7 linked regions of the Homo sapiens genome follow. The protein of the gene in region 1 purifies or fractionates together with the protein of each later gene. This does not show direct contact. Each region holds a gene or a part of one and is shown in the gene's direction. Other genes may lie near its edges.

Evidence for each region.
Region 2: the proteins of FOLR1 (region 1) and FAM133A purify together in Homo sapiens (affinity purification with mass spectrometry, with the first as the bait; one study listed by BioGRID). This does not show direct contact.
Region 3: the proteins of FOLR1 (region 1) and PRPF38B purify together in Homo sapiens (affinity purification with mass spectrometry, with the first as the bait; one study listed by BioGRID). This does not show direct contact.
Region 4: the proteins of FOLR1 (region 1) and PRSS3 purify together in Homo sapiens (affinity purification with mass spectrometry, with the first as the bait; one study listed by BioGRID). This does not show direct contact.
Region 5: the proteins of FOLR1 (region 1) and SRSF8 purify together in Homo sapiens (affinity purification with mass spectrometry, with the first as the bait; one study listed by BioGRID). This does not show direct contact.
Region 6: the proteins of FOLR1 (region 1) and XPNPEP3 purify together in Homo sapiens (affinity purification with mass spectrometry, with the first as the bait; one study listed by BioGRID). This does not show direct contact.
Region 7: the proteins of FOLR1 (region 1) and TRAP1 purify together in Homo sapiens (affinity purification with mass spectrometry, with the first as the bait; one study listed by BioGRID). This does not show direct contact.

Annotation. Positions count from the first base shown.
Region 1 is NC_000011.10:72,190,758-72,194,939, forward strand, and holds the start of FOLR1 (folate receptor alpha precursor), read left to right. Parts: upstream 1-1,382; 5' UTR 1,383-1,416; coding exon 1,417-1,584; intron 1,585-4,182. UniProt on the Homo sapiens protein: Binds to folate and reduced folic acid derivatives and mediates delivery of 5-methyltetrahydrofolate and folate analogs into the interior of cells. Has high affinity for folate and folic acid analogs at neutral pH.
Region 2 is NC_000023.11:93,680,702-93,684,415, forward strand, and holds part of FAM133A (protein FAM133A), read left to right. Parts: intron 1-3,714.
Region 3 is NC_000001.11:108,691,064-108,695,234, forward strand, and holds the start of PRPF38B (pre-mRNA-splicing factor 38B), read left to right. Parts: upstream 1-1,246; 5' UTR 1,247-1,528; coding exon 1,529-1,804; intron 1,805-2,526; exon of another isoform or gene 2,527-2,579; intron 2,580-4,171. UniProt on the Homo sapiens protein: May be required for pre-mRNA splicing.
Region 4 is NC_000009.12:33,794,044-33,798,557, forward strand, and holds the start of PRSS3 (trypsin-3 isoform 2 preproprotein), read left to right. Parts: upstream 1-1,517; 5' UTR 1,518-1,530; coding exon 1,531-1,570; intron 1,571-2,599; coding exon 2,600-2,759; intron 2,760-3,785; coding exon 3,786-4,039; intron 4,040-4,324; exon of another isoform or gene 4,325-4,442; coding exon 4,443-4,514. UniProt on the Homo sapiens protein: Digestive protease that cleaves proteins preferentially after an Arg residue and has proteolytic activity toward Kunitz-type trypsin inhibitors.
Region 5 is NC_000011.10:95,065,410-95,069,900, forward strand, and holds the start of SRSF8 (serine/arginine-rich splicing factor 8), read left to right. Parts: upstream 1-1,509; 5' UTR 1,510-1,817; coding exon 1,818-2,666; 3' UTR 2,667-4,491. UniProt on the Homo sapiens protein: Involved in pre-mRNA alternative splicing.
Region 6 is NC_000022.11:40,884,536-40,888,249, forward strand, and holds part of XPNPEP3 (xaa-Pro aminopeptidase 3), read left to right. Parts: intron 1-1,777; coding exon 1,778-1,980; intron 1,981-3,714. UniProt on the Homo sapiens protein: Catalyzes the removal of a penultimate prolyl residue from the N-termini of peptides, such as Leu-Pro-Ala. Also shows low activity towards peptides with Ala or Ser at the P1 position.
Region 7 is NC_000016.10:3,658,499-3,662,212, reverse strand, and holds part of TRAP1 (heat shock protein 75 kDa, mitochondrial isoform 1 precursor), read left to right. Parts: intron 1-80; coding exon 81-226; intron 227-3,347; coding exon 3,348-3,420; intron 3,421-3,714.

The DNA of each region.
Region 1 (4,182 bases):
CAGGAAAGAGAGCTGCTGGGTGGGAATTCAATTCCAGGCTTATATGAGCCCTGCTGTGCAGTCGGCCTGGAGACAGCCCAGCTCAGGCCCTGCCTAGACCCCTGTCAAGGAGGCCCTGTCAAGAGGAGAGGAGGGGCAGCACGGGGGCAAGGCAAGCTTGTGAGCGGGAAAGGCATGTCCACTTTAGCGACTGGTATGTGGAAGATGAGTTAGAGGAGACAGATGGAGAGAAGTCATAGGAAATAAATTCTGAGCATTTTAGGAGGGCCCAGACACCTGGTGTCCAGTGGAGTGAAGGAAACAGTCGCCTCCCAAAATTCAGTGTCTGAGGTCAAAGGATTGAAGTTCTGTGATGACCAAGGAGAAGCCAGCTCTGTGGTAGGGGGCACAGGAGCTCCCCAAGGCCCCAGGGCTGTCCAGCTGGCTGTCCCCTGCCAGCACCCATGTCCTGTGACCCCACCCCACCAAGATCCCATGGTTTCCGGGAAGGGCCTACTAAACTAGCTTGAGTGATGAGGCTAGAAAGGGGCTGGGACCAAGGTTTAAAAAGCAAAACAAACTAACAAAAACCACACTGCAGCCCCCCCAACTAAAACATTTTTATAAACTTTTTTTTTTTTTTTGAGATGGAGTCTCGCTCTGTCACCCAGGCTAGAGTGCAATGGCACAATCTTGGCTCACTGTAACCTCCACCTCCTGGATTCAAGTGATTCTCCTGCCTCAGCCTCCCACGTAGCTGGGACTACAGGCACACGACACCGCACCCAGCTCATTTTGTATTTTTAGTAGAGACAGGGTTTCACTATGTTGGCCAGGCTGGTCTCAAACTTCTGACCTCAGGTGATCCACCCACCTCAGCCTTCCAAAGTGCTGGGATTACAGGCATGAGCCACCGCGCCCAGCCCATTTTTGTAAACTTTTACAATGAAGTAATTTGGTGTCAAAATCTGACCTGAAAATTAATGTGAGTTTATGTATAGTTTTAATTTATCCCACTAGTGTAACTGTTTCACCCCAGAATATACACTTGATTATTGGGTATATGAAAATTATATTTTCTTTGAATCACCTTTGATGAAATCCTAAAAAATTTTAACCCTGAAACATTTGAATAAGGCATTGTGGACCTATGGCAAACTCCTGGCTATTTCTGCATTTTGCCCAAATCCATCCTTGAATTATATCACCTGAACCTCGTGACCACCTGGAGAAGGCAATGAGGCTCAAGCCAGGGAGGGGTGGTGTCTAATCCTACCTTTCATTGGATCTGGGAAAACTGAGGGAGATGGGGGCAGGGCTCTATCTGCCCCAGGCTTCCGTCCAGGCCCCACCCTCCTGGAGCCCTGCACACAACTTAAGGCCCCACCTCCGCATTCCTTGGTGCCACTGACCACAGCTCTTTCTTCAGGGACAGACATGGCTCAGCGGATGACAACACAGCTGCTGCTCCTTCTAGTGTGGGTGGCTGTAGTAGGGGAGGCTCAGACAAGGATTGCATGGGCCAGGACTGAGCTTCTCAATGTCTGCATGAACGCCAAGCACCACAAGGAAAAGCCAGGCCCCGAGGACAAGTTGCATGAGCAGGTGGGCCAGGGGGTGATCTGGGGTGGTGAGGGACTGGCTCAGGAAGAGGAAACGAGGACATGGAAATGCCAAACCCCATTCACTGGTGAACTGAAGTGGAGGAGCCCTTCAGTTTGCATTAATATGGGTGACTATTTCACAGACACTGTGCCAAATGTCGGTACAATGCCAACAGTTCACCTTCTTGGTTGTTGAGTTTCCGCATTACAGAAATAAGGAAGCAGGCCCAAAGGAGAGCCTGGGAAATGAAGTTGGAGTGACCCATCCTGGGGTTGCTTGATTTAGGGATTTAGACTGGGAATGACTCCTCCAAAGATCTGAGGGAAGAAACTGCACACTGTGCATAGTGGCCTCTTTTCTGCCAGCCCTAAACAGCTCAAGAAGGGAGAGTCTCTCACATTATGAGGCTGTGTGCAAAGCATTCTTTTTTTTTTTTCCTGAGACAAAGTCTCCATATGTTGCCCAGGCTGGTCTCAAATTCCTGGACTCAAGTGATCCTCCCACCTCAGCCTCCCAAAGTGTGGGATTACAGAAATGAGCCGTACGCCCTCCTGAAGCATCTTGGTTCATGCATCTCGCAAAACTTTGGGCTGTGTCTCTCGACCACATTGGACCTGAGGTCTCCCTATAACATTTATTTTGCTACCACCCCTTTAATATCCTGAACATGATGATATAACTAAAGAAAAAGCAGAGGAAAAGTAATTTGTAGGCCAGGTGTTACGGCTCACGCCTGTAATCCCAACACTGTGGGATGTCGAGATGGGCAGATCACTTGAGCTCAGGAGTTCGAGACCAGCCTGGGCAAGATGGCAAAACCCCATCTCTACTAAAAAATAAAAAAAATTAGTCAGGTGTGGTGGCACATGCCTGCAGTCCCAGCTACTCAGGAGGCTGAGGTGGGCAGGTCAGTTGAGCCCAGGAGGCAGAGATTGTAGATCGTGCCACTGCACTCCAGCCTGGGCAACAGAGTGAGACCTTGTCAAAAGAAAGAAAGAACGAAAAAAAGAAAGAAAGGAAGGAAGGAAGGGGAGGAAGGAAAGGGAGGGAGGAAAGGGAGGGAGGAAAGGGAGGGAGGCAAGGGAGAGAAACTTGTAATACGCATTTCTTTTTTTTTTTCTTGAGATAGAGTTTTGCTCTTGTTGCCCAGGGTGGAGTGCAGTGGCACAATCTCAGCTCACTGCAACCTCCACCTCCCAGGTTCAAGTGATTCTCCTGCCTCAGCCTCCTGAGTAGGCACACGCCACCACACCCAGCTAATTTTTTGTTTGTTTGTTTGTTTTGTTTGTTGGTATTTTTAGTAGAGATGGGGGTTTCACCATGTTGGCCAGGCTGGTCTCGAACTCCTCACCTCATAATCCGCCCCTCTTGGCCTCCCAAAGTGCTGAGATTACAGGTGTGAGCCACTGCGCCCGGCCTTAAGTGCACATTTTATTTATTTATTTATTTATTTATTTATTGAGATGGAGTCTTGCTCTGTTGCCCAGGCTGGAGTGCAGTGGCACAATCTCAGCTCACTGCAACCTCCACCTCCCAGGTTCAAGCAATTCTCCTGCCTTGGCCTCCAGAGTAGCTGGGACTATAGGCACCTGCCACCATGCCTAGCTAATTTTTGTATTTTTAGTAGAAATGGGGTTTTGCCATGTTGGCCAGGCTGGTCTCCATTCTTGACCTTAAGTGATCTGTCCACCTCCACCTCCCAAAGTGCTGGGATTACAGGCACTATGTGAGCCACTGTGCCGGCCCACATTTTAATATTTAGCTTGTCAGCCTTAAGTAATGAGATTCAGGAAGCTTGAGGATAGGCACACAGGAGCATAGTTTCAAGTTGTCCTGAATTTTGCAGCCATCACAAGTTAGTTTTTAAGGAAAAAGATTAGTTCCTAAGTTGTTTCTCAATAACTTATAATAAAATAACATCCACAATTGATTGGCTATACATTGTTTTTTTGTATCACAAATTCCACAAACAGATAATGGGTGAGGCAGCTAGTCAGGGACAAAACACTTCCCAAGTAGCTGGGATTACAGGTGTCCGCCACCACACTTGGCTAGTTTTTTGTTTGTTTATTTTTTGAGATGGAGTCTTGCTCTGTCGCCCAGGCTGGAGTGCAGTGGCATGATCTCGGCTCACTGCAAGCTCCACCTGCCGGGTTCACACCATTCTCCTGCCTCAGCCTCCCAAGTAGCTGGGACTACAGGTGCCAGCCACCACGCCCGGCTAATTTTTTGTATTTTTAGTAGAGACGGGGTTTCACCATGTTGGCCAGGATGGTCTTGATCTCTTAGCCTCGTGATCCACCCGCCTCGGCCTCCCAAAATGCTGGGATTACAGGCGTGAGCCACCGCACCCGGCCTAATTTTTATATTTTTAGTAGAGACGGGGTTTCACCATGTTGGCCAGGCTGGTCTCAAACTCTTGATCTCAGGTGATCCACCTGCCTTGGCCTCCCAAAGTGCTGGGATTACACAAGTAAGCCACTGCACCCAGCCTGGGGTTACAATTTAAATTGCTTTTTTACCTTCAAATCTTTGACACCTCAGTGAGGCTTAATCTGACCGCACTATTACACTACAAGTCCCCATCCGTCTCTGCTT
Region 2 (3,714 bases), on another chromosome or scaffold:
CAAGTATTTTTTCATATACCTATTGGCGATTTGTATGCCTTTTGAAAAACATCTCTTCAGATCTTTTACTCATTTTAAAAAATTATGTTTTTTAAAATTACTGAGTTGTTTGAGTTCCTTATATATTTTGAATATTTAACTCCTTATCATATGTTTGGTTTGCAAATATATTCTGCCATTCCATACGTTGCCTCTTTACTCATTTACTTCCTTTATTGTGCAAAAACTTTTTAGTTTGATGTGATGCCTTTTGTCTATTTTTGCTTTTGTTGCTAATGCTAGTTTTGAATGTACAAACAGCGTACATTTTTCAAAAATGTAAAACCACATCACGGAAGAATACTTTTACAAGGGTAATCAGGAATTTTTTGCCTGTAGTACTCATCTGAAGAATTTCCATCCTACAATTCAAATAAAGCAAGCCTTTTTATTGCAAGTTTGAAAGTATTTTATTTAATTTTACTATAAAGGAAGAAAAAATCCAAAGACTTTGAAAAATGGACAATGTTTACAATATATATAGATATATCTTATGTGCATATGATATATATGTATATATCTTATATGATATCTTAGATATATTCTGTCTATCTATCTATCTATCTATCTATCTTTGCAATGGCTATTTCCCCATTTTGCAATTTATTTGGACAAAATGGAGGAAGCCCAAAGTGACATTTTCTGCTGATTTTTTTCCAGACTATCCAAATATATTTAATTAATTTCATTAGGTACCTCCTCTCAGAAAAAAAGTAGTTGTTCTCCATTCTGGCAGATGTTTCTATGAAAGTATATGTTTAGTAAGTAGTATAGACTAATGCTTCAGCAAATCTAGTATTGATACTTTCAAGGTGATGATAGCTAACACTTCACAATTCTCTAAGAAGTGAGTAAACAAACAAGATGTCAATGAACTAATTGTTGCTTTTGGTTAAAAAATCTGCTTGTCAGAGAAAGAAGAAATAGAGGCCTACATTCTCTAGATTCATTACTTTGATTTAGCAACTGTCTTAAAACAGGTGTAAACAAAATTTTAAAATTATAATATTGACCACTTTTGTCTGTCTTCTCTTATAAGCAGCATTTGTCTATCTAAAAGAATAAGCATTTTTTTGTTTGTTTAGAGGTAACTGGATACCTTAATTAAAACTGTTTCATTATCTACATCATGAGAATGTGTTTAGCCTTCTTTGTAAGAAAGATTAAATATGACATGACAAGAGAATTACATAAATGATTAGACTATCTGACCAATCTGCTTGTAGCAGCCCCCAAACTGCCCCTTAGCCTCTCAGATATGCTATACATAGTTCTTTGAAAGGTCTTTCTGAAAACACTTATATCCTTGCCCTAATCCCAAATTTTTAGTGATACTTCACTGTCTTGAATCAAACCAGTGTATAAGTACAAGCTGTGTCCTTTACCCTCCAGTGACCTTGGGCACATTTCTTAACTCTCTATGCCTCAATTTCCTCATCTGTAGAATGGGGATAATAATAGTACCCATCTCACAGAGCAATGGTGAGCTTGAAATGACATAATACATGTAAAATTCTGATAACATAGTGCATGTCCAAACAGTTTTTACTAAACTTATCTTCTCCAGGAATAGTTACCCAGTGGAACATAGTTCTTTAACTCTTTCTTTCCTTCAGAGCTTATTTGCTTGGAGTGTATTACATTTTTGTGAGCTTTATGATAAACATTATAACAGAACCACATAGGTCATTTATTGTGTGTACACACACATGTTCTTTTCCTATGTATATTTTAAATTTACCTAGGAAAAGGACCAAGATATTTTCTTATTTATAATCCTCTGTCCTTGCTCAGAGTATTGCTCTGCACAAGAATACATTTAGTACTGTACTAATTAACTTCTTAAACAAATGAACTGGCTTCCTTACAGCAGTACCATTTTTTCTTTTTTTGAGACAAAGTTTTGCTCTTGTTGCCCATGCTGGAGTGCAATGGTGTGATCTCGGCTCACTGCAACCTCCATCTCCCGGGTTCAAGCCATTCTCCTGCCTCAGCCTCCCAAATAGCTGGGATTACAGGCGTTCACCACCATGCCCAGCTAATTTTTGTATTTTTGATAGAGACGGGGTTTAACCATGTTGGTCAGTTGGCCTCGAACTCCTGACTTCAAGTGATCCACCTGCCTCGGCCTCCCAAAGTGCTGGGATTACAGGAGTGAGCCACCGCGTTCAGCCAGCAGTACCATTTTTACTTGCTGTTCAAATAAAATTCATTTTTAGCCTTTAATTGCACTCTAATTTTATTTAACAGTTGTCTCTTAATTGTGCCTGATTTACTAATGTGTAATTGTCATGCAACAAATTACATTAGTTTACTAAATTTTCAGGTTTTAAAGAATTGGTGTTTTACCAACCAACTTCTAAATAGTAACACCTCACAAACTATTAATAGTTAGGAGGACACACAGAGTCTTCAGAAGAAAAATTTTGAAATCTAATGATGATCCACATTTAATATTAAATTAAAATGTCTGTTTATTTAACCCTTTCATTTCATTAGTATTTTCTTTCTAAAGGACAGTATTTTAGATAAGTATTGCAAAATTGCTTTACATATAATGAGCATTTAAAGGAAAATATAGATCAGAGTACCAGAGCTTATTTTAATAAACAGTACTCTATCTCATAAAATGGCTACCCTAATAACCCAGTTACTTTTATTCTTATCAGAATCTGTTGCTTGAATTAAGCATAATCAAACTTGCCACATTGCCTTTTCCTGTCTCATAAATTATGGAAAACAACTTCCCTCCAATTTCTTTATTGTTTGAAAAATACTTTTCTTTGGAAAGTCAAATCATATTTCTATTATAATCATAAAAATTATGCATGCTTGTTTTTTGAGGAACCTCCATACTGTTCTCCATAGTGGCTGTACTAGTTCACTACTTAAAGTGTATAAGAGTTCCCTTTTCTATGCATCATCACCTGCATTTGTTAATTTTTATCTTTTTTATAATAGCCATCCTAACTGGGGTGAAATGATATCTCTTCGTGGTTTTGATTTGCATATCCCTGATGATTAATGATGTTGAATATGTTTTCATATATTTGTTGGCCGTTTGCATGTCTTCTTTTGAAATGTCTATTCAGCTAATTTGCCAATTTTTGAAATGGGTTTTTTTTTGGCTGTTTTGAGTTCTTTGTATATTCTGGATATTAATTCCCTGTTGTATGAATACTTTGCAAATATTTTCTCCCATTCTCTAGGTAGACTTTTCACATTGTTGATTGTTTCCTTTGCTGTGCATAAGCTGTTTAGTTTGATATAGTCCCATTTGTTTACTTTTGCTTTTGTTGCCTGTGTTTTTGAGGTCTTATTCATAAAGCCTTTTCCCAAACCAGTGTCCTGAAGCATTTACTCTATGTTTTCTTCTAATAGATTTATAGTCTTGTGTCTTACATGTAAGTCTGATCCATTTTGAGTGTATTGTTGTATAGGCAGAGAGGTGGGGGAGTCTAGTTTCAGTTTTCTGCCTATGGTTATCCAATTTTCCCAGCACTATTTATTGAAGAGTCTGCCCTTTCCCAATGAGTGTTCTTGGAGCCTTTGTCAAAAATCAGTTGGCTGTAGATATGTGGATTAATGTTTTGATTTTCTGTTCTGTTCTATTGAACTACGTGCCTCTTTTTATGCCAGAAGTCAATTTTTTTAATACAAAAATCAGTTATTGAA
Region 3 (4,171 bases), on another chromosome or scaffold:
GACTATACAGAAAGATCATGTATCTGAGGAATTAAAAATAGGGCATAAGATTTGGCAATGTGTCACTCGGCAAACTCAATAAACTAGTATTATCAAGGCAAAAAATATATACACAAAAAGAACTGGGTTAAAAAAAATTTTTTCTATGGACTTTTAACGTGATAACTCATGACACAGGGGTTAGGATCTTCAGTTTTCCTTTGGAAGTTAATAAAAACCACTATAGAGAAAAACAAGATTTGCTAGTAAGAAGGTGAAAACTGCTTCTCCTCTCAGGGTTCTAGTTCTCTTGCAACCTAAAACAAAGGAACCAGACAGGATATCCACTTTCGTACCGTACAGCTCCAAACACTAATCAATCACTCCATTCACTTATCTTTTCTATTTCCTTGTATTCTGTCAAACAACTGTCTCTTGGTTTAAATACTTTTCTGCTGGTCTTCGCTCTCTCTCTCTCCTCTTCTGGTTTATTTTCATCCAGATGTGGATTTTCCCCAAAGTTTCCATCTTATCCTTTTCTCCTCCTGTGTATGCGCCACTGAAGTCAAGATTGCCACATTCAAACTCCCCACACATTCACACACCCACTCCCAATATACAGTATCTCGCCCAATGTTTATCACTCCGGATACATTCCTAGAATCCAAAGATCTGGAGCAGGGAGAAAAAGAAAAGGCGCCTACCAGATGCCTGGAACAGTCTACTAGGCACTACAAGTACATTAGCTCTTTCAATGCTCACAACAGCCCAGCCAGATGTTATCTCAATCTTACGGATGAATAAATTTAAGACTTCTGGCTGGACACTAGAGGCTGGCGAAGTACGTGACCTTTGATCAGAATCTCCTGGAGGAGTGGGGTCCCTGACCATTGTACCTTCCAGAGAACCTTAAAACTGAGATCCCAGGAGACCCCTCTCGGATACTCTGCAGAAGTCAGAGTGACGATATTAGCAAGCACACCGCAGCCATGCGAACCCTTCCTGGCTCAGCTCCCGACAAAAGAAATCAAGCCCCCAGTCAAAATACAACAACAACGGATTAGGCCTACAACCCTCTCCCCCGGCCCCCAAATTCTCAGGAGAAATCCCCTAAGAGTCAGGTACGGAGGTCACTGCAGCGACTTCAGCGTGCAGAGAACGCGGGGACCTAGGAAGAGGACGCTCCAGCCCAACTGAGCGTCTCTGATTGGCCGCCAGCTCAGCTTGGAACGCTGGGGTGCGTGGCGTCATATCCGCCGGGCCCGCCATCTTGTTCCCAGGGGCAGTTGGCGGAAGAGATCGAGCTCCCTGGCTGCCGGCTCGCCTTCTGCGTGGAGTTCTCGCGGTCTGGGTTTCGCTGTCTGCTCTTGGCCCGGGGTCATTTTGTCGGCGTCGGGTGCCCTCTCTTGCCCAGCTGGGGCACAGCGAGGCGGCCCCTTCTCCCGACGACGTTCGATGGAGTAGGGTCCCAGACCGTTGTCCCGAAGAGCGAGATCGAGCTTGGCCCCCTCCCCCCCCTCCTTCCCTCCCTCCTTCCTTCCGCCGCAACATGGCTAACAACAGCCCCGCGCTGACAGGCAACTCGCAGCCGCAGCACCAGGCGGCTGCAGCTGCGGCTCAGCAACAGCAGCAGTGCGGCGGCGGCGGCGCTACCAAGCCGGCGGTCTCCGGCAAGCAGGGCAATGTGCTCCCGCTCTGGGGCAACGAGAAGACCATGAACCTCAACCCCATGATCCTGACCAACATCCTGTCGTCGCCTTACTTCAAAGTACAGCTCTACGAGCTCAAGACCTACCACGAGGTGGTGGACGAGATCTACTTTAAGGTACGAAGTGTGTAGGCCTTGGCTTTGGGGGTAAGTTCGGAAGAGGGGGTATGGAGGAAACGGGCGAAGGCGGCCCCCGAAATCTGAAGATTTGTGGGTGGGGGAAGGTGGTTCGGCGGAGGGGTGGCTGCGGCCTGTAGTGTGTCTGGGAGGGGTCGGACTGGGGCCGCCCTCTCGTTTCCATTTTAGATTTTTAGGGCCGGGAGAGCCCGCCACTATTGATCTCTCTCCTCCCCCAACCTCCTGCCCACCCCTGGGGGGAGTTGGGCAAGAGGGATGGGGGAGAGGAGGAAAGAGTAACAGAAGCCTTTCCAGTTTACAGCTTTAAAATTATTCCTTTTGACGTGGATCTGCTGAGCGCCAACTTGTTGGTGCTTCTCCCGCTCACCCCTGGCCAGGGCGTGTAATGACTTCAGTATTGGCCTCGTGTTGTTGGTACTCACTATCCGATCCAGGCAGGGAAATGGTCAGTGCGTGTGTGTCGGGTGGGGTGGGGGGATGAGGGTGGAGAGGTGCCATTTCAAGAGGTGTACAGAAGGCCTGGAAATTTTCCCAGCAGGAAGTCAGGAGTAAGAGGTCTCAGCCACCTGTGCATTGGGCTAATTTAGAATTATCTGGGCCCTGGGCTTCTGCGGCAGGGTCGGTGCTGGCTTGGCTGTGCTGGGGAGCTCACCTGGCGCCTCCTCACTGCACTCTTGTCTCAGTTCTTGTTTCGTTAGCAGGATTGACTCAGTCTTGCAGCGAGGCTCGGAGCAGCCCAGGGTCGCAGGTAGAGGTATGCACTATTAATCATGCTCAATCGCCATAAATGCATTTCCCTGGTTAAATGAACGACTAATTAGATTTTTGTGGGTTTTTTTGGCCATTGCTTTTGGTCCTTCACCAATTAGGTAGGCTTTTTCCACTTCCCTGCAAATTATGTAGTATAAAAAATACCTTCCAGGCCTCCGAAAGTTAATTTCTATTTTAAAGAATATTAATAATAGCCTTAGTGGTCTTTAAAAATTTTATCCGGAGCATCTAATACACAATCCATTTTTGTCTATATTCACTCTTAAAAACTTGACAGACCGCACAAAGTGTTTTCTATCATTTGAACGTATGTGTAGAGATGGTAACAAAAGGACATTCTCTTTTGTCTTGCCCACCTTTTCCCCCAGTTGAGTAATTAGGTTATTGAAGGATTTTGAGAGATTAGTTGCTTTTTATAGAAAACATCTCTTGAATACAGTTCAACTTTGGGTTGATAAAGTACACAAATAAATTTGGAATCCTCTTACGAGAGTAGGTCTGATTGTAATTCTATGAATTAGTTTTTTTAGCTTTTAAAAGGTAAGACCTTTTTAGCATGGATACAGTATGGTGAATAACATTTAATCCTTAGCTTTATTTATGCAGTAAACTTTAAACAGTTGAAAATTGGGTTCCTGCTCTTTCTGCGGCAGGTTCTGTTTTCTAACATAGGCAAAATGTTAATGTAATAGAGGAAAGTCTCGTTTTTAAGTTTCAAATGTGTTTTGAAACAAGATTCTACCAGGAATTGTTTTTAAATTCCGTTAAAAAACTAAAGACCCAGTTTTTTTACTAATATTAAGAAGACTTAAGACTTTCAGATCAAATACTCACTGAAATTTATAAGTTTCCAACTTTGTAATTTTATTTTGTATGCATCCAGCCCTGCCTTTGGCTAGCTTTTAAGGAATTGAAACATCTTTTACATGGCAATCTGTGGGGAAGAAAGGAAACGTTAAAGCACTGCAAAATAGTGTAGTGCTTAAACTTACATGCACGCTTTTCTATCTAAAGCCATTGTTCAGGACTACAAAATTTACCATGTGGGTGGAAATAGAATTTTAGAAATATGCAGTGAAAAAACAGGATTTTTTTTTATGTTTTTAAAAAAAAACAAAGATGGGTCTTCCCAAAAGACCTTTTTGGATTCTATTTTAGAGTTAATATTCTTTTGTTGTTGTTGCTGTTGTTGTTGCTATTTTTAGATAAGGACTAGTTTTTGTAAGATGTTCCTCTTAGCAAATATGATACTGTATCATCTTTGATGATACTTAGTATATGCCAGTGACTATTCACACTCAGTTTTTGACACAATTTATATTCTGGGGAATAATTGGATTGGTTCACACATAATTAGGCTGAAGCTTAATTACAACAATGATCTCTGTAAGTGTGGCCTTTGTAATTTTATCTTTAATCAGGAATAAACCTGACCCTGGTGGAAAAAATGTACAAATAAAAAGTTCCATAATTTTGCATCACAAGTAACTCGTTACTGTTTTAGAAAATTTTCTTCAAGTAATTTTCCTTAATTTTATAATGTAGATTTTAAATTACAATAAAATTGAACTATTG
Region 4 (4,514 bases), on another chromosome or scaffold:
TGGCCATGCCAGGAGCTGAACCTGAAGGTACTCTGTGTGTCCTCTCAACTCCACGGGCCCCACATTCGCATTTTTTCCAATTCCCTCTGGTTTCCATTTGCTTCCTCCCTCTAGCCCCCTGGCCATGTCCGATCTCAACACGAAGTTTCTGAGCTTTTCTCATTTTGTTCACCATCTCCAGAACATCTCTGCTTCTTTTACTTTTCAAAGAATTTAAACTTGAACTCTGCTCACTCCTGCCCATCACCAACCTGAGCTCAGAGTTGCTGAGAAGGGAAAGCACCCTCATAAGGAAGCTCCTCCTTTCCTTACATCATTAGACTTGATCACAGACAGCATCTCCATCTCCACACTACTCTGGCCAGGTTGTGCCTCAGTCAATTACACAACTGTGTCTTAGTAGCCTTGGTAGGGCCCAAATCAGGATATTCTCTGGGAAGATTCACTTGATACTAAGCCCAGCATAATCTCACTGCATCTAAAATAGAAAATTCTAGACCCACCCCTCCACATCTTCTTATTGATCCCAATATGTGACCCATTTACCATGTGCTAAAATCTCTACCTACTGCTGATTCTCAGATCAGATGGTAACCCAGATTTACCATGGTCCAAACTCTGACATCTGATCAGGGGCATGTCATTCTGGTTCAGGCTGTCAGCCCTGAGCAGGTGAGTCAGTTTGCATCACCCTAAGTGCAGGTTGCCAGGACAACCGTGAGGCTGCATAAAAAGAACCTATGACAGGATGCACATGAGAGAGACAAGTGGCTTCACATTGAAGAAGGGGAGGAGTGCGCCATTGGTTTTCCATCCTCCAGATGCACTGAGTAAGCTCCTACCTAACCTGTGTCCCCTCCTTCTTTGAAACACTTCCCATCCTTTTAAGCCTTGGTAGGAAGGAGAGCCATCTGGAAGCCCAGAATCCTATGGAATGCTAAGTCTCCCTTCTCCTTACCCCTTAGTGTTGGAATTCTGGATACCCAAAGTCTTGGATTTGACCTTTGTGCACAGTGACTGCAAAGAAGCATATTCATATTCACAAAAATGAGCCTTAGATAAGACTTTCCTCCTCTCGTGGGGGCTCCAGGAAACTGAAAAGCCAAGCTTGTTACCAATGCTTGCCCTTCCTTAAGTACATTATTAAATACATCCCCAATAGTTAAAAGGACTCCTAGACACCCAGGCCATTCTCCCTCCTTCTAACCCTCATCTCCTCGGCCTACGAAAGCCCAGCTGTGTGATCCGGGGATTGGTTTCCCCTGTCTTCCCCATCCCAGCATCCTTCCAGGAAATAGCCAGTCTCCCTCTCTGCTCTCAGAAGGCAAGTTTCCTTATCACCTGTGAATCACAAACCCACAGAGTGGCCAAACGTAGCCGAGCTGATGCAAGACCCTGGCAAGGGGAAAGCTGCAGGTGTGTTTGTGCTGGGAAGAACTGTGACCCTCACCTCACAGACACCTCCTCTCCTGATTCTTGGAAGGGTATAAGGACAGGCCTTCCACCACCAGTCAGGCACACTCTACCACCATGAATCCATTCCTGATCCTTGCCTTTGTGGGAGCTGCTGGCGAGTTTCATGACCTGCCTCAGGCCCCACCCACCCCCTTTCCTGGCAGACACATGCCCTGCCATTCTTGCCACCTCTCCTCTTTTGACTGCGCTCTGATATTCTATTTCCTCCATCTGACATATCTCCTTCCCATCCTCCTTGGGCTCTCTTTAAGCCTCACCTGTTTCACCTTTTCCCTCATTTCACTCCCACCACTGTCATTCATCCATATCCGAGCTGTGGTTGGAGAAGCTGGGAAGGGAGACCAGGTGGGGCTGGCCCATGAAATGAAGTGGCAGGCTTCAGGCTTGGCTCCAAGAGCACCAGTATAGCACCACTATAGCTGCTCTTAACCTCGAATGCACCTGGGGAGGTTCAAAAATTACTCATGCCAGAGATTCAACTCTAGAAGTTCTAACTTCATTTGTCTGGGGTGCAGCCTGTGTACTGGGCTTTTAAGCTTCCCAGGTGATTTTTAACGTTTCCAGGCATGCCGCCAAAGTTAAGAATTGCTCTTCTATTGGCCAATAACAAAGTCTACCTTTGTTATGCCAAAGTGAGCCTGGGGCTGCCCTCAACTCTGCCCTCACTGCACAGATCTGAGCTATGGGGGAAGCTAGTCATGGCCAGGTCTACCCAGACAGGGGGTTTTCCTAGCTTAGCCAAAGTATCCTGACAATCCAGGGCTCAAATAGCCAGGGCAAGTACACAGGTGATGAATAAAAGAGAGAAGCACTCAGTGGGTGAGACAACAACATACCAACTGCTACCCCACTGGAAGCATTTTGAGGACATTCCTTGCATCCTCAGCCTGGTGTCCCCAGGAGAGATCTGAGCCCCTGCAGGGTACCTAGCTACGTGCCCTGCAGACACAGAGACTTGGGAGCCACATCCAGTGATGCTCACCAGGGGTGGCAGCGCTCCCTCCCTTGCCTGGCCTCACTGGGCTTGTTAAGGATTTCTAATTGGCAGGAAGCAACCGCAGGCTGGGAGCACCACCCCTAACATGCTACTGACTTGCCTTCTCCCTTCCTATTTCCACTCCAGTTGCTGTCCCCTTTGACGATGATGACAAGATTGTTGGGGGCTACACCTGTGAGGAGAATTCTCTCCCCTACCAGGTGTCCCTGAATTCTGGCTCCCACTTCTGCGGTGGCTCCCTCATCAGCGAACAGTGGGTGGTATCAGCAGCTCACTGCTACAAGACGTAAGTGTGGGGCCCCTGACTGCAAAGCTCCCAGCCAGGCTGCCTGGGAGAGCTTGGCTTCAGCCCAGGGAAGTACTGAGGTTGGGTAAGACGGATGGGAGAGGTGGTGGAAAAGAAAACTTGTTGACAGCAGCTGACTCTCCAGAGCAAGGCCAATCCATGAAACAGCAAGGGTTGTGGTCATAAAAGCAGGCAGGGATAATCTTGGAGTTGTCAGAGCTAGTGACAAAAGCAGGCAAGTACCTTTTGCTGGTTAGCTACACATTAAAGCGACCTAAGACAGAGTTTTTGAAAATACTGATGCCTGTGTCCTACCCCAGGGCAATTAACTCAAACTTCTCAGGAAGACAGTGTGAATACCAGTGAGTATTTAACACTCTACCTCTGGTAACTGTAGAGTGTATAGACAGAGCTGAGAACCGCTGCCTACACGAAGAACTCTCAAACCTGAGTATGCGTCAAAACCACCTGCAGGCTTATTAAAGCACAAATCACTGGGTCCCATCCCCAAGGTTCTGATCAGCGGGTGGGGGTAAGGACCAAGAATTTACATTTCTAACAAGTTCCCAGGAGATGCTAATGCTATGGCTACCCTTGGATTAGATTACACAGAAGGGTGGTGCTCACTAGGCCAAGAAGGGAGGGAGGAACAGGCGCTGTGCGCAGTTAGCAAAGACCTGGGGTGAAGAATGCTGGGAAAACTACGAGGAGCTCTTTGTGCCCACAGTGCTAGTGACTGTGGAGATTTGTGGGAAAGAGGCTGGGAAGGCAGGTTGAGGAGCAGCCTCTGGTGGGATCCCTTTGACTCTTCCCCACCCCACTACCACCAGCCTCTGAAGCAGAAAGGTCCTGGGTCTCACACCTGCACTGACCCACATCCCTCTCCTGCCCATGCAATATGGCCACACACCCCACCCCATGCCTCCAGAGCTATCCATGAGCAGTGAGCTTGAGGACCCTGGGGAAGGTGGGAGGGGTGCCCAGGCTGTGGGAGAAGGTCTTCACCATGCCTGCCCTGCCCATCAGCCGCATCCAGGTGAGACTGGGAGAGCACAACATCAAAGTCCTGGAGGGGAATGAGCAGTTCATCAATGCGGCCAAGATCATCCGCCACCCTAAATACAACAGGGACACTCTGGACAATGACATCATGCTGATCAAACTCTCCTCACCTGCCGTCATCAATGCCCGCGTGTCCACCATCTCTCTGCCCACCACCCCTCCAGCTGCTGGCACTGAGTGCCTCATCTCCGGCTGGGGCAACACTCTGAGCTTTGGTGGTGAGTGGGACCCTTTGTCCTTCTACTTCCCCCCATCCTCACAATTTCCAGAACGAAGCATGCCCCTTTATTTGAATCCTCTTGCCTCCCGGCTTAAGACACATTTCTAGTGCCCATTACACACAGTCTCTGCACTGGGCACCAGAGAGATGCAAAGTCTCAAGGACTTGGCTCCTAAAATCAAGAGATAGGACAAATGGAGAACTTGCTGTGATCACGTCTTGGGAGGGGTTCAACAATGATCATTCTGGAAACTAAAAGCCAGAGTCCCTTGCCAGAACTTACGTTTTGGAGTCCTCTCCAGAGGCAGTGTTCCTCTTCAATGTTCCATCCCAGATTATTGTCTCCTTCTCTGGCCTCACCCACATTTCTACTTTCTTTGATCTCTTCCTGATCCTCACAGCTGACTACCCAGACGAGCTGAAGTGCCTGGATGCTCCGGTGCTGACCCAGGCTGAGTGTAAAGCCTCCTACC
Region 5 (4,491 bases), about 23 Mb from region 1:
TTTCTGAATAATTTCTACCCACAGTTGGCTGAATTCACTGATGCTGAAGCCAGAGGTTACAGTGGGCTGCCTGTATTCTGTGACAAGGGATCCATTCATACCTAAGAGGACACATGAGCTCCAGTATACATGTCCAAGCATGTTCTGAGCAACACTGTAAGAGGCCAAAAGTGGAAACAACCCAAGTGCCCATCAACAGCACAAACATTTATACCATTGAATGCCTTACGGCAAGGTAACAGGATCAAGTACAGCTACATGGAACACATAGATGAGGGAAATAAAACACAAAATACATTAAAATATAAAAAGCACAATTCTATGTATATAAGGTTACATAACATTTTCAAAATCAGCAACGTTTTAATTAATTTAATTAATTTAGAATTCTCCTGCAGAGGAGTTTTCTCTCTTTTCTCCAATGTGTTAATTTATTTAATCATTTATTTACAACAGCACAGATTAATATTTATTTTATATTTTGGAATATGATATAGTAGTATTTTAGTTTGTTCCTTAAATTGTTCAAGATTTGGCCATTGGGAGCTGTTTTATTGGTTTTTGTACCCCTCTAAAATTACCCCATCAATGCTTTTGTTTGTTTTCTATTTATCACATCCTTATTTTCCAGCACTCCAAGATGCTCTAGGCCCTTTCTGTATATTTCCTTTCCAGATTTAGAAACTGTATTTCTTCATCAGTATTGCTAGATTGTTTTTTTCTTTAAAAGTGTTAGATTTCAGTTTTATTAATCATCTTTTTAAAAAAACATATTGTCCCTTTTATTTGTAATTCTATTTTTATTTTAATGTTTTATTTTTTGTTTTGGTTTTGTTTTACTAATTGCTTGACTTCAACATAAAAAAAGTTTTAGAAATGTGGTTATTAATTTTCAAGTAAATATGATTGGATTCAGGTTTTTTATTTTTAACCTTCAATATTATTTCACTGAGGTCCAGATGTGCTGAATTTATTGACCTATTAAATTTTAATTGACATTTATTTTGTAGTCTTGTATTGGGAAATTCTTCTGTTTTCTATATATTTTTGGTTGTTGCAGGTTATATGATCAAAATTGTTGTTTGTTGTGCAAATTATTATAGCATTACTAGTTTTGTTCTCTGCACTATTGATTTCTGAGAAAACGGTGTTACGGGGAAAAAACAAACTTCCATCATGAGTGCAGATTTTTCAGTTTTACCTTATAACTCTCAGTCTTGGCTATGTGTCACTGTTATGTGTTTAGGTGCGTTAAGTTCATCACTGTAATGTTTTCCTAGTGAATTTTCTTTTCAATAACTATGAAATGTGCTCCTTTGATCCTATCAATACACTGGATATTAATATTGTTGCCCTAGGTTTCTTTTGTTTAATATTTGTCTGGATTGCCTGTTCCCATAAATTGACCTTTAATCAGTTAGCTTTGTTCTTAAGATTGGTTTAAAACGTAGAATAATAGGGAGGAGCATGGGAGGGTGGGACGTCTAATGTAAATCCAGCCCAGTGATTACATTAGCTGGGCGCTGATTAGGTTAGGATGTTGCCCAGGTACAAGGCCAGGATCTTCGGGGCCTGGCTTCATTTGGAGTTCAGCTACCAAAAGGAAACCTTCCTCTGGGTCCTGGAGTATTTGGCCTGAAATTGGGAACTCGGAAGTTGCTGCTCCAGGGCGCTCCCTGCGGAGCTCCGCCGCCCGCCTCTCCGCCCGGCCTTTCCCGGCGTCCCCACGCGGGGCGCAACCGCGAGAAAGAAACGCAGGTCGCACCGTCAGCGCCCAGAGCAGCGCCAGTTTCCGGGCCCGGGCTGCTCTCGGAGCCATGAGCTGCGGCCGCCCCCCTCCCGACGTGGACGGCATGATCACCCTCAAGGTGGACAACCTGACCTACCGCACCTCTCCCGACAGCTTGAGGCGCGTGTTCGAGAAGTACGGGCGCGTGGGCGACGTGTACATCCCGCGGGAGCCCCACACCAAGGCGCCCCGGGGCTTCGCTTTCGTCCGCTTTCACGACCGGCGCGACGCCCAAGACGCCGAGGCCGCCATGGACGGGGCGGAGCTGGACGGACGCGAGCTGCGGGTGCAGGTGGCGCGCTATGGCCGCCGGGACCTGCCCCGCAGCCGCCAGGGAGAGCCACGCGGCAGGTCCAGAGGCGGCGGCTACGGACGGCGGAGCCGCAGCTACGGGCGGCGGAGCCGCAGCCCCAGGCGGCGACACCGCAGCCGATCCCGGGGTCCCAGCTGCTCCAGGTCCCGCAGCCGATCTCGCTATAGGGGTTCTCGCTATAGCCGGTCTCCCTACAGCCGATCTCCTTACAGCCGGTCGCGCTACAGCCGCTCTCCCTACAGCAGATCTCGCTACAGGGAATCTCGCTACGGCGGATCTCACTACAGCTCATCTGGTTACAGTAACTCTCGCTACAGCCGATATCACAGCAGCCGGTCTCACTCGAAGTCTGGGTCCTCCACTAGCTCTCGCTCTGCATCAACCTCCAAATCGAGCTCTGCGCGACGATCCAAGTCCTCCTCGGTCTCCAGGTCTCGCTCGCGGTCCAGGTCTTCATCTATGACCAGGAGTCCTCCCCGGGTATCCAAGAGGAAATCCAAGTCAAGGTCGCGATCCAAGAGGCCCCCCAAGTCTCCTGAAGAGGAAGGACAGATGTCCTCTTAAGAAAATGATGCATCAGGAAGCAACGTGATGGAGGACTTGGGGGAAAAGGATCACATACTCAGTCTATGGAAGCAACGTCCCTGGAAGAAGAGGCTGCCTATTGAAAAGGTTGTGTCACACTTTTCTACCTTTTTGCCAGTTTGAAGCTTTGCATCAGGTGGCAAAATTCATTCTATGTGCCGTTTTGTTGTTATTCACATTTTATTGTAACTTAGGAGGTGAACGACCTAAGATTACGTTATTGGGTTTGGATATTTGAGGCAAAAATTTATTTTTATTTCTATAGTGATGACTGTTTTGGTTTGAAATGAACAGATTGGTAACCTAATTTGTGGCCTCCTGACTTTTAAGGAAACGTGTGCAGCCATTACACACAGCCTAACGCTGTCAAGACATGCTTCAACATTGCCTTCATTCCTTAAAAACCTACAAAAGGTGGTGTAAATTAATATGGATAATTTTATTTACCTCCAGGTCTAAAAGGTAGTGTGACCCAAATTTGTATAAAGATTTTTCATGTGAAAGGACTGGGGTTTTAGCAAACACAGGTCTAATCTCTTTTGTGTTTTTGTGCACCAGGCCCGGCTGCGTAGCAGTTGAGTGATGCTGGTTAGCTATTAAGGTGGCCTGTTGCAGTGCAGAGTGCTGAGCTGCTTCCTGTTTTCTTCTGATTGCTCCTGGGGAAAACACGCCTTGTCCTGAAGAACAAATGGCTGTCCAGTTTATTAAAATGCCTGTCAACTGCACTTCCAGTCACCCAGGCCTTGCAGATAAATAATGGAGCATGCAGTGAGCACATCTAGCTGACGATAATCACACCTTTTCCCCCGTCTTTTCTGAAAAATTGTAAATCTGATCATATCAACATGTATGAACTTAAAATATGGAGAATGTTATGGAAGAAATAGTTTATAAGTTTGTTAAGTACTTATAACATGGTTTATCTTTTTGATTATTAATTTTTTACGCTAACCATTGTTTCTGTAGTTAAAATTGTTTTCTTGGTGTTATCTTTTCTCAGAATAAAATTAGAAACTTTTGATGGAAAGTAGGTTGTTTTATTTTCTGTATGACTTTTGGATATTTGTACTTTTGAGAAAATTATTAGCACCAAGTGTTTCTCAAAATATAATTTTTAAAAAATCCTTAATAGGCTTTTAGCTATGTGCTTTATTGTTTTATCACAATGCAGTTTATTTGTAGTTTCTCTCTTTTTTCCTCACACCTATGGTTTTTTTACTTCCAAAATTATTTTCAAATAATCCATTTTTGGCTTTCATCATTATCCCTACTAGATGTTATGTGTTCTTTTGCAATTGTTTCTGCTTATACCTTTACTAGCAAAGGGAAAAATAACAATTTGGTGTCAATGATCTGGTGACAATAGGATTACATTGGAGCCAATTGAATAAATTTATTCTTTCAATCATATGGATCTTCATTAATATTTTTGACTGAATTATCAATTAAAAATATTTCATTCCCTTTGTGCAGAAACTGCTAAATCCAGGGTTCGATTCTTGAATGAACTGGCAAGGTGGCTGTGGTCTGTAGATATACATCCCACATTTTGTTGTTATAACAGTTAGTAGTTAGTATTGCTTTCATATATAGACTCCAGAATCTAAATTTTACGATAATGACATTTCTTCTGGTCATGACAAATGTAATATTTTACAAATATAAATCTACGTAGAATCCAAAGACACACACAGAGCAGTCCTGTCTGAGAAATAAAAAATCAGGACACCCATGGCATCGTAGTAGCCCCTCGCGTCCAGCAGGTGGCGAAGGGAGGTGAGGTATATTTATTAAATGGGACCGA
Region 6 (3,714 bases), on another chromosome or scaffold:
GTTAGTCAGGCTGGTCTCGAACTCCTGACCTCAGGTGATCCACCCCCCTCAGCCTCCCAGGGTGCTGGGATTACAGGCGTGAGCCACCGTGCCTGGCTAAAATCATATTTATTGAAAGGTTTAAAAACCTTTAAAAAAGTGAGCTATGATTTCATACACTTTGAACGTGTAGTAGAGATTGTTTTACTTTTTAAAAATTACAACAATTGGCCGGGTGCAGTGGCTCACGCCTGTAATCCCAGCACTTCGGGAGGCCAAGGGAGGTGGATTGCCTGAGATCAGGAGTTCGAGACCAGTCTGGACAACATGGTGAAACCCCGTCTCTACTAAAAATACGAAAAAATTAGCTGGACGTGGTGGCATGCGCCTGTAATCCCAGCTACTTGGGAGGTTGAGGCAGGGGAATTGCTTGAACCAGGGAGGTGGAGGTTGCAGTGAGCCGAGATCGCGCCACTGCACTCCAGCCTGGGTGACAGAGCAAGACTACGTCTCAAAAAAAAAAAAAATTACACGACAATTAAATTTCCATCTATCGTAAGTAGGAAGGTGTTTCCCATGTAGTATATATTTAGAACCATTTTTATTTTAAAAATGAAAATATGTAGGACATAGAATCACATAGGACATAGAATCATAGAATCAGTGCATATCCAATCAAAGTTTTCTGGATTTTTTCCCCTCTACTTTCCCCAAAGTACTTTTTAGTCATATAAAATATTCAGACCTTCTCACTTGGATTGTTAGGAATACTGTTTGTAGCCTACTGTTAGAAAAAAAGAACAAATGTAGATCTGATATTAAGTGCAAATCATTTTTATAATGAGCCTTTATATCGTATATCTTAGGCAAATACAGACCATTTCCTTAGGTCTCTAAAGTTGAAAGCTGAACTGTGATTGTTTACAAAGAGAATGTATAGCAGATGCAAAGGGAGAAGTGAGGAAATATCAACTGTAGTTTTTCCATAGCAATGAATAATTGCTCCAGAATGGGAGGAGAACCCTTTCCTCTAGTACTGAGATCATTATGTGAAAGGATGGGACACTTTACCCATAAAGTCATGATCTGAGTATGTTTTTCTGTCCTTCTGTGTGCAATTATTCAACAAGTGCCTCTAGCTCAGTAAGTGGTGGTGAAGAACAGTTGTTCTAATTGTTTAATAATGAAGGCCGGGCATGGTGATTCACGCCTGTAATCTCAGCACTTTGGGAGACTGAGGCGGGTGGATCACAAGTCAGGAGTTCGAGACCAGCCTGACCAATATGGTGAAACCTCATCTCTACTGAAAATACAAAAATTAGCTGGGCATGGTGGCGGGCACCTGTAGTCCCAGCTACTTGGGAGGCTGAGGCAGAAGAATCGTTTGAACCTGGGAGGCGGAGGTTGCAGTGAGCTGAGATTGTGCCACTGCACTCCAGCCTGGGCAACAGAGCAAGACTCCATCTCAAAAATAAAGAGAGAGAGAAAGAGAGAAAATCAAAGCTTGACTAAAGCTTTAGTCCCGTATCATCCTTTATAAAGAACACTGAAGTTTAGGGGCAGAAAAGCTGTATATTCAGTCTTAGAATATCTTGCCATTTCCAGGGAATGACCTTTCTAATGATTTATAATCAAACCTTTATTGCTTCAGTCCTGAGAGAGTCTTAAGTCTCAACACTTTAGAGTTCCACGTTACAGGTTTTATAGTTTTGACTCTTGTTCAAGTCGTTATGACAGTTGATATTTCTTGTTGCTGGTAGTTTTGTTTTAAATTTATTTTTCGGCTTCTCATTCTAAGCTGAGACGAACATGGTTTGGTATGACTGGATGAGGCCCTCACATGCACAGCTTCACTCTGACTATATGCAGCCCCTGACTGAGGCCAAAGCCAAGAGCAAGAACAAGGTTCGGGGTGTTCAGCAGCTGATACAGCGCCTCCGGCTGATCAAGTCTCCTGCAGAAATTGAACGAATGCAGATTGCTGGGAAGCTGACATCACAGGTATGATTCCTATTGAAAAGTTTTTTCCAGCCGGGCGCGGTGGCTCACGCCTGTAATCCAAGCACTTTGGGAGGCCGAGGCAGGTGGATCATGAGGTCAGGAGATCGAGACCATCCTGGCTAACATGGTGAAACCCCGTCTCTACTAAAAAAACATAAAAAATTAGCCGGGCATGGTGGCGGGCTCCTGTAGTCCCAGCTACTCGGTAGGCTGAGGCAGGAGAATGGTGTGAACCCGGGAGGCAGAGCTTGCAGTGAGCCGAGATCGGGCCACTGCACTCCAGCCTGGGCGACAGAGCGAGACTCCATCTCAAAAAAAAAAAAAAAAACAAGAAAAAAAGAAAAAGTTTTTTCCAGATTGGAAAAATCGTAAGCTCTTGAGGTCGTATACCCAATGCAGCAGTCTCCTCACCGCAGAATGGCATCTAGCTTCTGCTCCAGTGTGTAGTGAACATACCTAGAGACTTGCTTAATACCTTGCAAGACAAAGTAAATCTGCCTTCTGTTAAGATGGTTCTTTTACCCATCAATCTTAATTATTTCTCCTTAGAACGACAGAAATTAATACTGTTTCTTTTCCTTATAGTTACACTAATAGTGTCAGTTAAACAGTTTGGTTCTAAGAAAGACTCAGGACCCAAAGTGACAATGCTTACAGATCTGCAGTTTATTATAGGAAAAGGGTAAAAAATAACCATAATATGAAAGTAAGGATATATATCACAGCCAATGGCTGTCTCAAAGCAAGGAGTCTAGAGAAGCCAGGTGCAGGCTTCTCTGGTCCTCCCTAGGTGAGGGCCAGGCAGGATGTATCTTTCTCTTACAGATTAGGAATCACCAGTGTTGTCATACTCTGCTCAGGCTGCCATTACAAAATATCACAGTCTGCATGGCTTAAACAAGAGAAATGTATTGTCTCATAATTTTGCAGTCTGGAAGTCCGAGATCAAGGTGCCATCATGGTCCATTTCTGGTGAGGGCTCTCCCGGCTTACAGAAGGCGGCTTTCTTGCTGTGTCCTTACATGACAGTGAAAGAGGGCCTTTTTACAAGGCCATGGTCCTATCAAATTAGAGCCCCACCCTTAATTACCTAATTTAACCTTAACTACCTCCTAAAGACATAGAGATTAGAGCTTTAACACATTAATTCTGCGGGAAACACAATTCAGTCCATGGCACATGCAACAGACTACCTCAGAATCAGAGACTCCAAAATGGAATCTCAGCTAGGGATTTTTGTTTTTTTGGTCACATAATCATATTCCTGCTACGTAACAGTAAAGCCCCCCGAGAGTTTTCACAGAGACCAAGTGTAAACCATAAATCTCACTGGCAAACTGATAGAAACTATCCCAAAACTCCCTATTTCATTTATTCTCTCCAAGGTGTTGGCCATTGACTTAATTTAAAAAAATCTTTTTACTGTGGTGAAATGTGCATAACATAAAATATATCATTTTAACCGTTTTTAAGTATGCAAATCAATGACATTAAGTACATTCACATTGTTGTGCCCACTTTTTCCCGACTTTCTCCATCATTCCAAATAGAAACTGTACAGATAAATAATAACTTCCCATTCTCCCCTCCTCCAGCCCCCAGTAACCTCTACTTTCTCTGTGAATCTACCTATTCTAGCTACTTCATATAAATGGAATCATACAACATTTGGCTTTTTGTGACTGGCTTATCTCACTTAGCATAATGTTTTTAAATTTCTTCCATTAGAATTTC
Region 7 (3,714 bases), on another chromosome or scaffold:
ACCTTCACCCCTGGTAAGATCCTGCCAGCCCTCTCACATTGGGAACCTCTATCACCCTCAACCCCGGGCTTTGCTCACAGGTGACCCTCCGACTGGACACCCACCCTGCCATGGTCACCGTGCTGGAGATGGGGGCTGCCCGCCACTTCCTGCGCATGCAGCAGCTGGCCAAGACCCAGGAGGAGCGCGCACAGCTCCTGCAGCCCACGCTGGAGATCAACCCCAGGTGAGGCCACGCTCCTGGCTCTTCCAGCCTGTGGGATTCCCCAGAATCCTGTGTGTGGTGTTCTTTTGTTGTGGAATGTGACACAGAAGAAAAGTGCGTGAGGCCTGTGGACATGTGGGTAACTATAAGGAGCTGTATGCAGTTTAGGCTGCACCCATGTGAAATGGAACCTGGCCAGCCCCTTACCATCCCCAGGTGTCACCTGGGAGGTTAGCCACATCCCAGCCTGTGACCATGTCCTCGTTTTGCTTTATGGCTTTGCCACCTGTGCGTGTCCTGGACATGCTCAGTTTTGCCTGTTTTGAGCTTTGTACGTGGATCTTGGTGTTTGCTGAAGTCTCACGTTGCTCACTTGGCATGAGGGTTGCCCATGCAGAGGGGCTGCCACAAGTTCATTTTCATAGCCGAATAATGTCCGCTGCAGAAACCCACCTCGGCACAGCAGACTGCTCCGTTCTGCTCTGCTGGGCCTCCGGTGGTTCTTGGTCAGAAGTTGTGGAGAGCCAGGCTGCTCTGAGTATTCTTGTCCACGTGTCTGGGGCTTGTGTGGGTTTCTCTGTGGCCCCGGTGGTGGGAGCTGCTTCCAGGGTGCACCGAGAACCCCCCAGCCCTGACAGTGGCTGAGCCGTAAGATTTCCCTCGTTTCTTCCTGTTGTTCTTTATATGCCCTTTATCTGTTGTAAATGTCTTTTCACCTGCCTTTAGGTATCTTTTGAGTTTCTTTCTTTTTACAGTATCACTTCTTTGCACCCATGAATGTGATCTATTTAGGTCTTTAACATCCTTTGGTACCTTACATTCTCTGTAGGGTTCTGGTACCATTTTTAAAGAATTATTCTTTGATGTGTCTTATGGGGTATTTTAAAATTTCATTTTCTAACTTGTATATGAACTAACTTGTATATGAAGTTTCTTTTTTGGGGGAAATTTTGAATGTAGCAATTTTTTAAAAAATGAAGTTACATAAACATGTTACCAAAAATAGAAAACAGCAAAAAGGAAATCAAAATCCATAGACTTACCACCCCCCCCACAATGTAGCCTAAGTAGTATTTTAATTTTTGAGACAGGGTCTCACTCTGTCCCCCAGGTTGGAGTGCAGTGGGGCAATCTCAGCTCACTGCAACTTCTACCTCCTGGCCTCAAACAATCCACCTGCCTTAGCCTCCCGAAGTGCTGGGATTACAAGTGTGGGCTACCACCCCCAGCCAGTTTTTGTTTTGTTCTTTAGTACATGTCTAGTTTTTTTCTTTTGTCATTTTACAACCATAACTTTTAAAATTATACTGGAGGCGAGGGAGATGCATCTTCCTAGCCATGGCACTCCTGGGGAAAGGCTGACTTGGCTTATGGCTGTCAGTGCACAGCAGCGCCAGTATGCAGAATGCCTGTGCCTCTGCTGGAGCAGCTCAGTGAGGCGGACACCAGGTCACTTTAACTAGTTTTGGTGGCAAACTAGTTTTGTGAGATAGCTGCAGAAGTGCTCGTTTCTGTCTGTTGCCACTTCACTTTTGGAGACAGGGTCTTGCTCTGTCACCTAGGCTGGAGTGTACCAGTGGCGCCATCAGAGCTCACTGCAGCCTTGGCCTCCCAAAGTGGTGGGATTACAGGCGAGAGCCACTGTGCCCAGCCAGCTTCACTTTCATTTGTTTTAAAATTTGGTGTTCTGTCCACATAGTTCAGAATTCAAAACTGCTTACAGGGGAAAATTTCCTCCTACCTGTGTCCCCAGTGCAGCCAGCATTAGGGCTTTTGTATTTCTGCAGAGATTATGTGCATTTGTGGGCAGCTGCGCCCGTGGGCTTCCAAGGGGGAACTTGCTGTGCAGTGGGTCCTTGCCTTGCTTTTCTCCCTTAGGGTAACTAGGTGACCTCCACATTAGCATATTAAGAATGTCCTTTTTTTCCAGCTACGTAGACTAGAAATGTGAGGATGTGCATTTGAAGTGTTTCCTCTGTTAGGTTGGGTGCGGTGCCTCACGCCTGTAATCCCAACATTTTGGGAGGCCTAGGCGGGTGGATCACTTGAGGTCAGGAGTTCGAGACCTCATCTCTACTAAAAATACAAAAACTAGCTGGGGGTGGTGGTGGGTGCCTGTAATCCCAGTTACTTGGGAGGCTGAGGCAAGAGAACCTCTTGAAACCAGGAGGCTGCGGTGAGCCAAGATCATGCCATTTCACTCTAGCTTGGGTGAAGGAGTGAGAGTCTATCTATCTATCTATCTATCTATCTATCTAAAAAAAAAAGTGTTTAAAGGGATGCAGTTAGGAAATGGAATGGCTGAGTCTCAGCATATCATCCACATGTGGTTTTCCCGACTCCAGTTGTCCTCTGGAGAGGTTGTACAAATTTACAGTTCCCCAGAGCCCTCGGTTTTATCAGACTTCTAAGTGAAAAATTATAATATTCATGTTAAGGTTAAATACTACATGATGCTTTTTCCTATGCAGAAAAAAATATTGTTCTGACGTCAAATATGTCAATCATTCTTTACTTTTTGGTTTGTGGTTTTGCTTGGAAAGGCTTTCCCCTTCTGAGATGATGAAACATTTCTTCCCTAGAATTGTGCTTGTCATCTTTGATCCCTCTGGAATTTACTCTGGTCTAAATGGTTTTCTGCATGGCTCCCAGTCATCCCAGTGCTGCTGGATGGAGTGATCTGTCTCCTCCCTCTTCTGTGAAATACTGTCCTCATCAGACACTCAGTGTCCACCCTCGTTACATGGAGTTGTTTGCCTTCCCCCTTTCCAGACCTAAACTGTTTTATTTACTAGAGCCCTATAATATGTTTCAACATGTGGGTCTTACTCCCTTCTCTTTTATTATTTATCTAGGAACCAAGGCATGTCTTCACGTACTAAGCTCCTTTTGTCCCTTTAGTGTATATTAATCTTGGAGTTTGGCTACCTTACAGCATTTTCTAATACTGACACTCCTGATTCTCTTGGGTTTTCTGGGTATATAATGATATTATCTATAAATGATCATTAACATACCTTATTTAAAAAACTACAGACAGTCTTACTGTGCTTCTTTAAATATCCTGATAATCCCAAAACATGAAGGGAGGGTCACAGCACGTGGTACTGAGCTGCTTTTTCTGGTGGGTTCTGTGTTGCAGGCACGCGCTCATCAAGAAGCTGAATCAGCTGCGCGCAAGCGAGCCTGGCCTGGCTCAGCTGCTGGTGGATCAGGTGAGTGCAGCAGCTTAGGATGACTGCAGGGACCCAGGCTACCAGCCCTGCCAGCCTGCCTTCAGGGTGGAACAGCGGTTTCCTCTAAAATCCTGTCTTTTTGTTTGTTTGTTTGTTTTTTGAGATGGAGTGTTGCTCTGTTGCCAGGCTGGAGTGCAGTGGCGCGATCTTGGCTCACTACAACCTCTGCCTCCCGGGTTCAAGCAATTCCCCTGCCTCAGCCTCCCGAGTAGCTGGGACTACAGGCATGCGCCTGGCTAATTTTGTATTTTAGTAGAGATGGGGTTTTCACCA